Regions from separate parts of the Homo sapiens genome. Here region 2 is linked to region 1. The links come from fine-mapping of genetic effects on gene expression. Tissue or cell type: whole blood. Region 1 holds a variant in brackets; the other region holds the start of a gene. All regions are shown on one strand. Distances are between the middles of the regions.

Region 1 (8,046 bases):
TAGTCAAGTGTGGTGGCGTGTGCCTGTAATCCCAGCTACTCAGGAGGCTGAGGCAGGGGAATTGCTTGAACCCGGGAGGCAGAGGCTGCAGTGAGCCGAGATCACGCCATTGCACTCCAGCTTGGGCAACAAGAGTGAAACTCCATCTCAAAAAAAAAAAAAAAAGCATTTTAGGGTGGGCACAGTGGTTCACGCCTATAATCCCAGCACTTTGGGAGGCCGAGGTGGGTGCATTACCTGAGGTCAGGAGTTCGAGACCAGCCTGGCCAACATGGTGATACCCTGTGTCTACTAAAAATACAAAAATTAGCCAGGGATGGTGGTGGGTGCCTGTAGTCCAAGCTACTCAGGAGGCTGAGATAGGAGAATCGCTTGAACCTGAGAGGCAGAGGTTGCAGTGAGCCGAGATCACATCACTGCACTCCAGTCTGGGTGACAGAGCGAGACTCTGTCTCAAAAAAAATTTTTTTAATTTAATTTTAAAAAGCATTTTAATGTCCAACTTATCTAGGCTTGTTCCTTTTGATTTTCCAAGTTCTTACTCTGGAGGTGATGATGGTGGTGATAACAATAATTTATATAGTACTCACCATGTTCCAGGTGCTAGTCTAAACTCTTTACATGTATTAACTCACTTAATTCTTAACCAGTCCTATGAGGTATTATCATTCAATGAGGGGACAGAGGCAGAGGTTAAGGAACTTGCCTGAGGTCACACAGGTAGTAAGTCAGGGAGCTGTGATAGGAAACCAGGTAGCCTGGCTGTGGTGTCTGCCTTGGCCTCTCTTATATGACCTCTCATGCCTGCCATAGTTCTAATTTGACTATCATGCCATAAAAAAAGAATTGTCACTCCACACTTACCTGGCTAATAATGATATTTTTGACTGTATGTCCCAACTTCCAGTGCCCCAGTTCATGGCCTAGTACAGCGAGTACCTCCTCATTTTTACATCCTTGTTTCTTATTCTGAATAAAAAAAAATCAAAAATAAATTATTGAGAACCTTTAAAAAGTTTTATCTTTTAACCCAGTAATAGCCCTTCATAGATTTTAACTTAAAGAAATAATCAGTTTTGTTCAAAACTGTTGATTGTCTTAACAAAACATTCCCTGAACCACTGCTCCACATGAGACAGTGGGTTAAGCACTGAAGATAGATAGAATGACGAACAAGATGGACATTCCCAGACTACATAAAGCTCACAGTCTAGACTAACTTAGATTAGGAAAAAAAAAACTGGAAGAAATAGAAATCTTTATAATGGGACAATAGTTAAATAAATCATGATAAAGTTATATGACAGTCACATTATATTACAAAATCATTAGAAATTTTGTTTTCAAAGATTAGGGCCAATTGCAGTGGCTCACGCCTGTAATCTCAACACTTTGGGAAACCGAGGCAGACAGATAACTTGAAGCCAGGAGTTCCAGACTAGCCTGGCCAACATAGCAAAATCCCATCTCTACTAAAAATACAAAATATTGCTGGGCATGGTGGCTCATGCCTGCAATCCCAGCACTTTGAGAGGTCAAGGTGGGTGGATCACGAGGTCAGGAGACCGAGACCAGACTGACCAACATGGTGAAACCCTGTCTCTACCAAAATACAAAAAATTAGCAGGGTATCGTGGTATGCGCCTGTAATTGCAGCTGCTCTGGAGGCTGAGGCAGGAGAATCAGAGGCTGCAGTGAGCTGAGATCACCAGTGAGCTGAGATCACGCCATTGCACTCCAGCCTAGGAGACAGAGCAAGACTCCATCTCAAAATAATAATAATAATAATAATAATAATAAATTAGCCAGGCATGGTGGTGCATGCCTGTAATCCCAGCTACTCAGGAGGCTGAGGCATGAGAACTGCTTGAAACTGGGAGGCGTAGTCTGTAGTGAGCCAAGATCACGCCACTGTACTCCAACCTAGGTGAAAAAGTGAGACTCCATCTCAAAAAAAAAAAAAAAAGGGATGATGTTTTGACATTGGAAAATGATTAGGTGAAGAAAGTAAGACACAAACTAAAAATATATAGTATGATTCTAATTATGAAACAATGTGAATGTGTATATAAAAATATACAAATATAAAAAGTAGACTGAAAGTATATACAAATGTTAACAGTAGTTATTATTATTTATTTTAGATGGAGTTTCACTCTTGTTGCCCAAGCTGGAGTGCAACGGCACGATCTCGGCTCACGGCAACCTCCACCTCCTGGGTTCAAGTGATTCTTGTGCTTCAGCCTCCTGAGTAGCTGGGATTACAGGCGCATGCCACCACACCCGGCTAATTTTTGTATTTTTAGTAGAGACAGGGTTTCACCATGTGAGTCAGGCTGGTCTCGAACTCCTGACTGCAGGTGATCCACCTGCCTTGGCCTCCCAAAGTGCTGGGATTACAGGCATGAGCCGCTGTGTGGGGCCTAGTCCCATTCTCTTACTAAGGAGCAAATAACCAAGGATTTACCAGATATATGAGGTAAGCTGTTAACACAGAAGATCTGATCCACAAAAAAAGCAACATGAAATAAATTATATAAAGAGAAAGTTTAGAAAATTAAGACATTGCACCTAAGAAAAAGTAACGAAATGCTGTAAATTGGAAAATTCAGATAAAAAAATTATTAGAAATCCAAGCTGAAGGCCAGGCATGGTGACTCAAGCCTGTAATGCCAGCACTCTGGGAGGCTGAGGCAGGTGGATCACGAGGTCAGGAGTTTGAGACCAGCCTGGCCAACATGGTGAAACCCCGTCTCTACTAAAGATACCAAAAAAAAAAAAAAAAAAAAAATTAGCTGGGCATGCTGGTGCACACCTGTAATCCCAGCTACTCAGGAGGCTGAGGCAGGAGAATTGCTTGAACCCGGGAGGAGGTTGCAATGAGCTGAGATCGCGCCACTGCACTCCAGCCTGGGCGAGAGGGCAAGACTACATCTCAAAAAAAAAAAAAAAAAGAAAGAAAGTTCAATACAATAAAGGATTGGAAGATGATGAGGGAATTCTAGAAAGCAGAAAGAGATATATTTAAAATGGAAAAGAGGGTTAAAAAGATAGGAGAGTTCAGTATAACAAATCCAGCACTCGAGTAAGAGGAGCCCTGAAAACACAGAATTTAAAAAATGGAGAGGAGAAAAATCAACAAAATAATTTCAGAAAATTTCTTACAACCATAGGACCTCGATTTCCAGAATAAAAGGGCCTAATGCATATATTACAGTGGATGAAAACAGTGTGATGCATATAACATGGTAGATGAAAACAGATCCCCATCAAGGTATGTGAAATTTTAGAACACTGAAACAGAGAAAGATCTAACAAACTTCCAGAAAAGCAAACAAAAACAAAAACAAAAAAAGTAACAAAAGGATCAGCAATTTTTTTTTTTTTTTAAGACAGGGTCTCACTTTGTCACCCAGGCTGGAGTGCAGAGGCAGGATCTCAGTTCACTGTAACCTCCACCTCCCAGGTTCAAGCAACTCTTGTGCCTCAGCCTCCTGAGTACTGGGATTACAGGCGTGCGCTATCATGCCCAACTAATTTTTGTATTTTTTTGTAGAGACAGGGGTTTCGTCATGTTGGCCAGGCTGGTCTCGAACTCCTGGCCTCAAGTTATCTGCCTGTCTTGGCCTTCCAAAGTGCTGGGATTACAGGTATGGGCCACAGTGCCTGACCATAAGCAGATTAACTTTCTAAACTTGCATGATTCTCTAGTGTTATCACTGGGTTATTCTTTCTGGACTTCAGTTTTCCTATTTATAAGATGACTTTAAGATGTCTTCTAATCCCTTCACAGAATTTTATTTCATCTACGTATTTATAACAGGCTAGGTACTTTACTAGAACCTGTTTTTAGTGTCAAAACAGATGCTCAGATGCTAATCATTTTCTGGTACTCTCTACATTTGGGTAGAGAGTACAAGGTATTTCACACATATTATTTCATTTAATCTTCAAAACCCTAAAATGTAGGTATCTTTAGCCTAGTATTTCTCAACCAGGGGAGACTCGGCCCCACCGCTACCTTTAGGGGACATCTGGCAATATTCTGAGACATTTTTGTTGTTACAATTTGTAGAGGTTGTAGGGGAAATGGCCCCTAGTGGGGAGAGACCAGGGATGCTGCTAAACATCCTGTGATGCACAAGATACCTCCCACAACAAAAAAATTATCTGGCTCAAAAAAATAGCGTGGGGCTTGAGAAACCCTACTGGCCTCATCTTTCAGTTAAGAAATCAAAGATTTAGAAAGCTTGGCGGGGTGCGGTGGCACACGCCTATAATCCCAGCACTTTGGGAGGCCAAGGCAGGCGGGTAACTTGAGGCCAGCAGTTCGACCAGCCTGGAAAACATAACAAGACCTCATCTCAAAATAAATAAATACATAAATAAATGAAAGCTTAACTTACTTGCACAGAGTTACACAGACAGTGAGTGAACAGGCATCTAAAATCATCTCTGTATGACACCAAAGGCAATGGCACATTCCATCACACATACAAATACTGATGATCATTTCTGACAGTTTGTATTGTTTCTTATCATTGTCCCCTCTCCCCCATTTAGTCTTGATACTTTAAATTCTGCTAATCAATATCAGTCAATCTTATCCACGAAAAGGATTCAGAAGCAGCTTTCTCAGACTCTCA[T/G]GTCAGATTTGAGAAATGTCTTTTCTTGTGCTCCAGTTACTATATCTAGAATCTAAAGCTTGACAGTAGCAATTCACGTATTGTACTGTGATTGCATGACTATTTCCCCTTTAGACTGTAAGCTTAAGAGGAAGGTATTCCTTTTTATTTTTGTGTACCTAGTGCCAAGTAAAGTCTCTCAGCACAGAGTATACATTTCATAAATGGGTGTTAAACAAATAAAACAGACTAAATTACACAACGTATCCAAGGATACAAAGCTACTAAATGACAGAACCAGGATTCAAATCCAAGTCTCTCCATTGCCAAAGCCTACAATTACTGTCTTAATAAAGCTAAAAATTAGATGTTTATCTTCTCTTTATCTTGCTTGTGGGAATTCTTTGATCATAAACACATAAGAAATTATATATATATATACACACACATATATATATATACACACAAGTTCCTGTTTTAAAGATAGCTTATAATCATATGAATTTTCTTATAAGAGCTTCCAATTTTAATATCCACATTCTATAAAAGCTTGCAAGGTAGTTAGCATGTAATAATAGTGGTGATCTCTCCTAAATACCAGAACTATAAAGGAGCCATGGTTTTCATCTGATAGTCTCCCTGAATTCAACACTCACTGCCTAGAAATTGATGTTATTTTGAGTTGTCACAGGAACTGTGTATAAAAACTAAGGTAGAATCTCTTAGGAAAAAATAACTCACTTTAACTTTAGCTTTTATTTCTTCACTGTTCCCTTCTTCCTCATTGCGGGGTTCCATGCCAGAATCCTCCTGGATGTCTTTGTTTAGTACAGAGTACTCTTCTAGTAGAGTGTCAAACAAAACTATTCGCTTGTTCTTGAAGAAGCCATAAAAATAAGCATTGCTGTGGGAAGAGCGTTTAGATCCTAAGGAAAAGACAGTTCAAAGCATGGAATATAATTAAAAAGTTTGGGGTCCTTTGGAGAGACTCCTAGAAATTGAATTACTGGAAAGGACATTAACATTTTCAAATCATTTAATATGTGAAGAAAAATCATATCAACATAATTCACCACCAGCAGTGGAGAGTGTCTGTTTTTTGCCAATAAATGTGCTCATCACAGCTTTATAGCAGTAAGTAAATAAGTAAAGCCTAAACATCCAACAGTTACAAATGATTCAATTATAGTAAAACTATGAAATGGAATTTTAAGCTGCCAGAAAAAAATTATACTTCCAAAGAATTTTAACAAGAAAAAGCTCACCAATATATTGTGAAGGATACAAAACTTCACGTATATCAGGTTCCATTATCGTCAAGAAAAAATGTGCATGTATTAGGTTGGTGCAAAAGTAATTGCGGTTTTTGCATTGTTGAAATTTGCTGTTTGATATTGGAATACATTCTTAAATAAATATGGTTATGTTATACATCATTTTAATGCACATTTCTCACTTTATGTTTTTTGCTAATGACATTACTTGCTGTTTATTTTATATTTATTTTAGATAAGGGAAATTATATTAGACAAAAAGCAAATTCAACTGGGTGCAGTGGCTCATGCCTGTAATCCCAGCACTTTGGGAGGCTGAGGCAGGCGGATCACTTGAAGTCAGGAGTTCGTGACCAGCCTGGCCAACATGGTGAAACCCTGTCTCTACCAAAAATACAAAAAATTAGCCGGGCATGGTGGCGCACACCTGTCATCCCAGCTACACGTGGGGCTGAGGCATGAGAACTGCTTGAACCCAGGAGACGGAGGTTGCAGTGAGCAGAGATGTCGCCACTGCACTCCAGCCTAGGCAACAGACGGAGACTCTGTCTCACAAAGAAAGAAAAAAAAAAAAGCAAATTCAAGCAATTTTCTTCTTTGAGTTCAAAATGGGTCGTAAAGCAGCAGAGACAACTCGCAACATCAACAACGCATTTGGCCCAGGAACTGCTAACGAACGTACAGCGCAGTGGTGGTTCAAGAAGTTTGCAAAGGAGATGAGAGCCTTGAAGATGAGGAGCGTAGTGGCAGGCCATCGGAAGTTGACAATGACCAATGGAGAGCAATCATCGGAGCTGATCCCCTTACAACTACACAAGAAGTTGCCGAAGAACTCAATGTCGACCATTCTACGGTCGTTTGGCATTTGAAGCAAACTGGAAAGGTGAAAAAGCCTGATAAGTGGGTGCTTCATGAGCTAAGCGAAAATAAAAATTAAAAAAAATCATTGTTTTGAAGTGTCGTCTTCTCTTATTTTACACAACAAACCATTTCTCTATCAGACTGTGACGTGAGACGAAACATGGATTTTATAGAACAACGGGCGATGACCAGCTCAGTGGGTGGACACAGAAGAAGCTCCAAAGCACTTCCCAAAGCCAAACTTGCACCAAAAAAAGGTCATGGTCACTGTTTGGTGGTCTGCTGCCAGTCTGATCCACTATAGCTTTCTGAATCCTGGCAAAACCATTACATCTGAGAAGTATGCACAGCAAATCGATGAGATGCACAGAAAATTGCAACGCCTGCAACCAGCACTGGGCAACAGAAAGGGCCCAATTCTTCTCCAAGACAACACCCAACCGAACATCGCAAAATCAATCCTTCAAAAGTTGAACAAATTGGGCTATGAAGTTTTGCCTGATCTGCCACATTCACCTGACCTCTTGCCAACTGACTACCACTTATTCAAGCATCTCAACAACTTTTTAAAGAGAAAACGTTTTCACAACTAGCTGGATGCAGAAAATGCTTTCCAAGAGTTTGCCAAATCCCGAAGCACAGAGTTTTACCCTACAGAAATAAGCAAACGTATTTCTTGTTGGCAAAAATGTGTTGATTGTAATGGTTCTTCTTTTGATTAATAAAGATGTGTTTGAGCCTAGTTATAAGGATTCAAAATTCATGGTCTGAAACTGCAATTACTTTTGCACCAACCTAACAAATATTAACAGAAAAGCATAAGCCCATGCCTATTAGGAAACATACCAAAATACTGAAATGTTTATCACTAAATTCTAAAATTATAGATTTTTGTTTCCTTTCTTTTCCCAAAGACTTTTAAAATCAGCATACCTACTTCTATAATTAAAGCAATTTTTATAAAGACTGGAAGAAGACATACCTTTTTTTCTTTTGAGACAGGGTCTCTCTGTCGTCTAGGCTGCAATGCAATGGCATAATCATGGCTCACTGCAGCCTTGACCTCCTGAGCTCAATCAATCCTCCTGACTCATCCTCCTGAGTAGCTAGGACTACAGACACATACCACCATGCCCGGCTAATTTTTTGTAGAGACAGGGTCTTGCTATGTTGCCCAGGCTGGTCTCTAACTCCTGGGCTCAAGCAATTCTCCTGCCTTGGCATCCCAAAGTGCTGGGATTACAGGTGTGAATCACCACAGCTGGCCCATACCTAAATTTTTAATA
Region 2 (8,046 bases), 25 kb after region 1:
AGGAAGCAGAGGTTGCAGTGAGCCAAGATCACGCCACTGTACTTCAGCCTGGGTGACAGAGCAAGACTGTGCCAGAAGAAAAAAAAAAAAATCCAGGCAAATTCAACATAATGAGATAAGTACTCTGACAGGAATAATGATAGAATGCTACCCTATCCACATTCGTCAGGCAGGGAGTTTCAAATGGTTGCTTAGAAGACATGACATCTCAGCTGGATCCTAATGGAAGAGGATCTTTTTCCTACCTGGCTTCAGGGTAATAGTTCCCATATTCTATAGTTTTCAACTGACTAAGCAGTTATGTTTCTGTCTTTTTTGCTCCACAGCCGTTACTATCAATAACAAAGGTTAAGAAAGCATTCTGGGACTTGTAAGTGTGGTACCCTCTTTTGTGTTACAAAAATATGAAAATGAAAACAACCAGACAGACTGTCTCTCCAAGAAGTAAATTACTCACAGTGCCTTCAGTCTCTGAATAGAGTCCTGACCAGAAGCTGAAAGTGCTTTTATCCAGTTGATAGAGTCGAGATTTCTCAAATGTTTCAGAATCCATGATCTGTCCTAACTCCGGTGGTACATGAGTTGTTGTTTTATATATCCTTCTCTGAAATATTTTAAAGAAAACACTTTAGTGAAATAGTTGTTTATTACAATAGTCATTTATGATCAAACATCGAATGGTTTATAGCTTGCCACTTATATCTGTTGAATTTGCTTTATACCTACACAAATATTGCACTTGATCAAGTACATGAAACGACTGATGCAGGAAAATAAAAGCAGAACAAGAGAACCTGAGGTGACCTGACTGGTAAAACTATAATCAGGGTTGTCATCACACTTCAGTTTGTATATGTAAACCAAAGCTGTTAACATCACAACTTTGTTACATGTACTACTCATTCTGGGTATTACATACCTCCTATAATACGGAAAACAAATTCATGCAAAGGAGAAGCACACATGCTAACTGTGAGTATGAACAGATACTGAGGCTGCTCATTAAATTTGGTCCTAAATGCCAGAAACTTGAGGATCACCAGATGGAAACATATCAGGTCTGTGAGAAAAGACCAATTTTCAGCCGGGCACGGTGGGTCACGCCTGTAATCCCAGCAGTTTGGAAGACAGGGGCAGAAGGATTCCTTGAGCCCAGGAGTTCAAGACTGGCCTGAGCAATGTGGTGAAATCCCGTCTCTACAAAAAATACAAAAATTAGCAGAGTGTGGTGGTATGCACCTGTGGTCCCAGCTATTTGGGGGGCTGAGGTGGGAGGATCACTTGAGCCTGGGAGGCAGAGGTTGCAGTAAGCCCATATTGTGCCACAGCACTACACCCTGGGTGACAGAGAATCTATCTCCTTAAAAAAAAAAAAAAAAAAAAAAAAGGAGAAAGATCAACTATCTCATTATACTAAATTATAAAAGGTAAGGGTAATTTCAGTCCAGGAAATGTAATACAGAGAATGGATACCAAACAAAATAATGGGCCACTACAACATGCTTTCCCTATATATTGTTGTGTGCCAATAAAAGCTGAGGGGAGATCGAGCACGGTGGCTCATGCCTGTAATCCCAGCCCTTTGGGAGGTGGAGGCGGCAAGATGACTTGAGTCCAGGAACTCCAGACCACCCCGGGCAACATCTCTACAAAAAAATCAAACAATTAGCCAGGCACAGTGATCCGCACCTGTGGTCCTAGCAACTCAGAAGGCTGAGGTGGAGGTGGAGGGGTCGTTTGAGCCCACGAGTTCGAGGCTGCCTTGAGCTATGATGATGCTACTGTGCTCCAGTCTGGGTGGCAGAGTGAGCCCCTGTCTCTAAATACAATAAATATTCTATCCTGGCCAAGATGGTGAAACCCCGTCTCTACTAAAAATACTAAAATTAGCTGGGCGTGGTGGCACGTGCCTGTAATCCTAGCTACTCGGGATGCTGAGGCAGGAGAATCATTTGAACATCCCTCCCTCTGCGCGCTGCTGGCAGTGTCACAGACACACTCTTCCCCTTGCAGACTCTCCCTCGTCCCTCCTAGTTTCTTGCAGTGAGCCGAGATAACGCCACTGTACTCCAGCCTGGTGACAGAGCTAGACTCTAAAATTAAATAAATAAATAAAGATTAAAAATAAATAAATAAAAGTTCAGATCTCTAAACCATGGTTATCTCAGGTAAATTGTTAACTTTCACTTTTTATTTTACCATTTTAATATTTAAACTAAAATAATGTTGATTTTATGAAAAACGAGAAATATATTTCATTTAATTTCATTTATTTATTTATTTTGAGATTGAGTTTCACTCTTGTCGCCCAGGCTGGAGTGCAGTGGCACAATCTCAGCTCACTGCAACCTCCGCCTACTGGGTTCAAATGATTCTCCTGCCTCAGCCTCCCAAGTAGCTGGGACTACAGGTGCGCGCCACCACACCCGGCTAATTTTTCTATTTTTAGTAGAGACGGGTTTTCGCCACGTTGGTCAGGCTGGTCTCGAACTCCTGACCCCAGGTGATCCGCCCGCCTCGGCCTCCCAAAGTGCTGGGATTACAGGCATGAGACACCACGCCGGGCCCGATAAGTTTTTTGTTTGTTTGTTTGTTTTTTCAAGCAGAAACAATATATGCACTTTAAGGAGAAACAAGAGTGCAAGTTCTTGGAAGGACTGCAAAATCCTATGGTTAGGCATGATTACATAAATGTCATGAGGAAGTTGGGTGTCTAAATCCTTTTAAAGGCTTATTCCAAAGATAAAGGAGGCCAAGTCTGGGCCCAAGGATCCCAAGGAAGCTGCAGGGAGGGCACAAGAGCCCAAGCCTTCCTCCAGGCCCTAAAGGGATTGGGTCCCATGATAACGTTACAGAAAACTTCCTTGACGCACCAAGACCCTCCTCAAAGCCACAGTCCGCCATCGGGCCAAGTTACGAGACTCAGCAGGGACCACAAAGACGAGACTGGCGCGGGGACCGAAGCAATCAAGAGTCTCAGGGTCGAAGCCAAGGCTACTCCAGGGCTGGCCGGGTATGGGGGTCAGGTTGGACCCTGTCTAGGCTCACCTGCCGCTGTGCTAGGAAGGTCTCCCAAAGATACACTGTCCAGGAAAAGAGCAGCACGGCCCCGAAGATACGCTTCTCGGCCGGCATCTCCCACAAAGCGTCCAGCGATGCCCACATCCCCATGGCCACCCGGTTCCGCCGGCTCCTTCAGCGTGCACCGGTGCCACACCGACACTCGTCCCTTCAGAGCGTCCCCGCGGTGTCACAGCAATATCCGTTCTTTCCGAGGGCCCCTACGCCGATACCCGCCCCCATCCCTCCCTCTGCGCGCTGCTGGCAGTGTCACAGACACACTCTTCCCCTTGCAGACTCTCCCTAGTCCCTCCTAGTTTCTACAGGAAAAGCCCCAGCCCCACCTTCCTCACTTCCGGCCCAAAGAGGGCGGGGACCCAAACGCCGAGTTCCGGGCCCGGCTGAGCTGTGTTGCATCAACATTCTTCCCCCACGTCTTGACGCTGGGTTCCGGCCTAGGGTTCTGGCTTTCCTCCTGGGCTAGTGAACGCGGCGAAGTCCTCCTCTTTCTAATCTCCAGAGCCGCAGTTCCATCCTCTGGGTCAGCGGCTTACCCTGACTGGGCTGCGGTATCTGCCTTCCTTCCCCCAACAAGGCGACAGGTAGTCGGGGCTGGGGCCGGAACTGACTGAGTGGGCCGCAACTGACTGAGTGGGCCGCGGCTCCCGCCTGAGGAGGCTAGGAAGGACTGAACAGCAGCCGACTTCCCAGGCTCTAAAAATCGTGCCTCTGAGTTAGAGCTACCTCAAAAGCAAGACCAAGCATGAGAAATGGAGTCTTTTGGCCAGTATTGGGGTGTTCGGAATTCAAGCGTATGAGAGAGTGGACGGTAGCGTTGAGAATTTTCATTTGAAGATCTCGTCTTAACCACCCCAAGTGTAGTCAGAGGCGGCGTTTTCCCTGCGAGAGTGCCCTGGAACAAAGCAAGGATAGCGTGGGTTAGACATACCTGAAATGAAAGCGTCTTACTTTATCTAGGTACATATTTGCGTCAGTAAGGCGCAACGCCATTTCTCTCTTGGAATTCAGAAGTGAAATATGGTGACTGGGACGCCTGTACATTGCTTTGACTTAAAAATTGAAGTCCATTATTCTGACCGAAAGTTAATCTGATGATTAATTGGTTAAACATACTATCGTTGCTAATTAGCATAATTATTATTTACAATAAAGTGAGCTAAATAGCTACAACTAAAATATATTTAAATTACTGTGATATTGTGATGCTAAAGATGTGTTGAAATTAATATCTTGAATTTCTCAACCCTGCCTAAATGCCTCTGAGAGTAATTAGTATAATTAAAAGTCACTAGAGAAAGTGAATGACTCTAATAACAGGATAACAAATTCTTTTCAAGTCAGATGGTTTCCAGTTCTTTGCTTTCAACAAAATTAATGGTGGCCCATGAATTGTCAGCTGATGAAGGAACACTATTTGGTTTTTGGCATGCAACTCGGAAAGAAACCAAACGATTGATTGACATGCTTACAACAAAACTACTAGCATTCTCACCTATTTATGTAAAACCATTTCTCAGCACTTGTATCTGTGAAAACAACAGAATTGAAAATGAACCCTGTTAATCTACCAGTAGGAACTATTCATCCAGATAAATGAATTAATTGGTGGGTCAGCCCCATCTATCTCACTAAGAGATGTGTTCCCAATAGAATTTCACCTTTTATAACTGTGTGTTATCAATATTTGCAATCGTGTCATTTTGATCCATTATATACTAAAGATGATTGTGATGATTACTCACTTCAGAAGAATTCCAGCGTAGAGCCATAAAGTTACACGAAATTTTTTAAGGTTTACTACATATGTCATATTTTTATTGCGAAGAAGTGATCAAGAAAAGGTTGTTCAAACATCAAAGTACTATATTTGAATAACATTTTTTGTTAGAGTACAATCTAAATATGTTAGAGATAATAAAAGAACAATGTTGAAGAGCTCATTAGTGTATGTTTTAATGCATAATGGTGGTTATTCAGTTGTTATGTAGATTCTCTTGGATACATTATAAAGAGTGATTTAACAGTTTTATCTTAAAATGTCAGTATTTACAATTTGCAAGAATTTACATCCATTGCAACTATTTGAATTTATGATGGAACCAGTTAGATACCAACTTAAATATATAAGGGGTAAACACTTTTTCAAAATTTTCTCTCCCTCAGGCCATCATTGCTATGCCCTCTTCACTCTTGACTTCAGCTGTCTGTGAGTCCAAAGCCTCACAGGAGCTTCTACCACCCAAGCTTTGTGGCTAAGGGCACAGGTTTAGAGTCAAGCTGCTTGATTGCCAGCCACGGCCGCACCATGTATTAGCACGTTCTTTAATCTGTGCATCAGATCCTCATCAGTAAAATGAGAATAACATAGTATGTACTTACTTTCTCATACTGTTAGGATCAAATGAGAAAATTCATGTAAAGCTCCTAGCAATGTAGATGGCCCTGAGTGCCCAATAAAGGTTAGCTACTGCTTGGGAGAGGGGCATCATAGCATTGATCTGTCACCATGTGTCTGAAGAGATAGGAGAGTAGGAGGCCGAGGTGTCAAAAAGCCAAGACTGACTGGAATTCATTCATTCAATAAATACTGAATGTCTGCGAAATGCCAGACGCATTTCCAGGTGCCAGGGATATAGCAGTGAACCAAAGCCCCTCTCCTGGAGCTTACATTCTTAGCTGGGGTGGATGCAGTGTTTGATAAATAATAAGCAAATATTTAATAGTAAAAGTGGAAGTGGTGATAAGTGCTATGAAGAAAAAGCAGCAAAAAGGCAATACAGCATGTTGGTGTGAGGGATGCTGCTTTACATAAGTTGGTCAAGGAAGCCTTCTCAGATTAACTGGCATTTGAGTCCCCCAAAAAAAGTAAGAGAACAAGCTGTGTGGATATCTGAGGAAATTGCCAGTCAGAGTGAAGAGCAAGTGCAAAGGCCCTGAGATTGGCCAATGCTTATCATATCTGAGGAATGGCAAGAGGCTGTGGAAAGAGTAAGGAAGAGGGGGAGTGCAGATCCATGCCATCATGCAGTCTTTTAGTTAAAAGACTTTTACTTAGAATGAAAGAATAAGCCATTGCAGGATTTTGAGCAGAGCATTGCAGAGTTTTGAGCAGACAATCCTTCTCATTACAACGTGGAGAATAAATTTAATGGGGAATGGAAGGAGGGAGTGCAGTTAGGAGGCCATTTCAAGAATCCAGGTGATTTAGCAGTTGCCAAGGATATCAGAAAAAAAGAAAAAAGAATCCAGGTGAGAGATGGTAGTGCAGACTAATGTGGTGGCAGTGGAGAACTAGTGAATTATGGAAAGTGAATAATCACTTGTTTCTCTTTTCAGAAAGACAGTACTAATAGAAGGGCTGGCCTGTGTGGAGTCTAAAAATGGGAACCTCAAAACAGGCTGTTGGCAGGATTTTGCTAAAGGAGAAAGACTGGCAGGGTGTGCTGGCTCACACCTGTAATCTCAGTTCTTTGGGAGGCCAAGGTGGGATAATTGCTTGAGTGCAGGAGTTCGAGACCAGCCTAGGCAACACAGTGAGACTTCATCTCTATAAAAATAAATAAAATGACTGAATTTGAAAGATAAAGATTATTATCCCTAGAGTGATAGACATTGCTGTAGGGTAGTCCATCTACCCTGTCTAACCTAAATCATAGAGTTGCTCTCAAGCTTTTTCCCTATCTTGCCTTGATTCTCTGCTTACCAAGCATTCAAGGTCCCTTAATTGAAACTCTGGCCATAAGTGCTCTGGCCTCAAGAAAAGAATGATCCCCCTTGGCTGGGCGCAGTGGCTTACGCCCGTAATCCTAGCATTTTGGGAGGCCGAGGTGGGTGGATCACTTGAGGCCAGGAGTTTGAAACCAGCCTGGCCAACATGGCGAAACCCCATCTCTACTAAAAATACAAAAAAAAAAACAAAAGACAAAAAACCAGGCATGGTGGTGGACGCGTATAATCTGGAGGCTGAGGCAGGAGAATCGCTTGAACCCGGAAGGCGGAGGTTGCAGTGAGCGGAGATCACACCACTGCACTCCAGCCTGGGTACCCTTACAAGAGCAGCTGTTATTTCTTTTGCATCTAGCTCATTCTACTTTCTAGCTCATACGTTCTGTCTCTCATATAGGCTACTAATTCTGTGTTACTCCCTGTTAAAAAAGAACAAAAACAAAAACCCTGTAATGGTCCATTTATGATAGTATAAAGCCCAACCTATATATGGTATATATGGTATGACCTTCGAGGTCCTTCATTACCTGACATCAGTCTACTCTTCAAAACTCTTCTTTTTTGGCCGGGCGCGGTGGCTCACGGCTGTAATTCCAGCACTTTGGGAGGCCGAGGCGGGTGGATCATGAGGTCAGGAGATCGAGACCATCCTGGCTAACACGGTGAAACCCTGTCTCTACTAAAAATACAAAAAATTAGCCAGGCGTGGTGGCGGGTGCCTGTAGTCCCAGCTACTTGGGAGGCTGAGGCAGGAGAATGGCATGAACCCGGGAGGCTGAAGTTGCAGCGAGACAAGATTGCGCCACTGCACTCCAGCCTGGGTAACAGAGCGAGACTCCGTCTCAAAAAATATACATATATATATATCCTTCTGGGCCGGGCGCAGTGGCTCATGCCTGTAATCCCAGCACTCCGGCAGCCCAAGGCGGGTGGATCACCTGAGGTCCGGAGTTCCAGACCAGCCGGGCCAACATGGTGAAACCCCATCTCTACTAAAAATACAAAAAGTTAGCCAGGCATGGTGGCGGGCGCCTATAATCCCACCTACTCGGGAGGCTGAGGCAGCACAATCGCTTGAACCTGGGAGGCAGAGGTTGCGGTGAGCTGAGATCGCGCCACTGCACTCCAGCCTGGGCAACAAGAGCGAAACTCTGTCTCAAAAAGTAATAAAAATAAAAATATACTTCCATGATGATCCCGCTCAGGAATATTATCTTCCATTTCTTTGTCTGCCTATGT

The links. PIP is the estimated chance that this variant, and not a neighbour inherited with it, causes the effect.
Region 2: ZMPSTE24 starts here. The variant in region 1 is the best candidate, but not a certain one, in a credible set for the expression of ZMPSTE24 in whole blood (TOPMed, PIP 0.53).

What each region holds. Positions count from the first base shown.
Region 1 is chr1:40,278,848-40,286,893 of GRCh38, reverse strand. ZMPSTE24 (zinc metallopeptidase STE24) reads right to left here. Exons shown (of 10, transcript NM_005857.5): 7 at 5,367-5,551; 8 at 865-969. Among named protein-coding and RNA genes, the nearest start is that of ZMPSTE24, 25 kb to the right of the region's middle. The variant T/G (reference allele first, on the strand shown) is at 4,647.
Region 2 is chr1:40,253,397-40,261,442 of GRCh38, reverse strand. It overlaps ZMPSTE24 (zinc metallopeptidase STE24), which reads right to left and starts at 3,207. Exons shown (of 10, transcript NM_005857.5): 1 at 3,049-3,207; 2 at 458-604. The coding sequence starts at 3,171. RefSeq lists enhancers at 2,797-2,896, 2,987-3,266, 3,347-3,616, 3,847-3,976.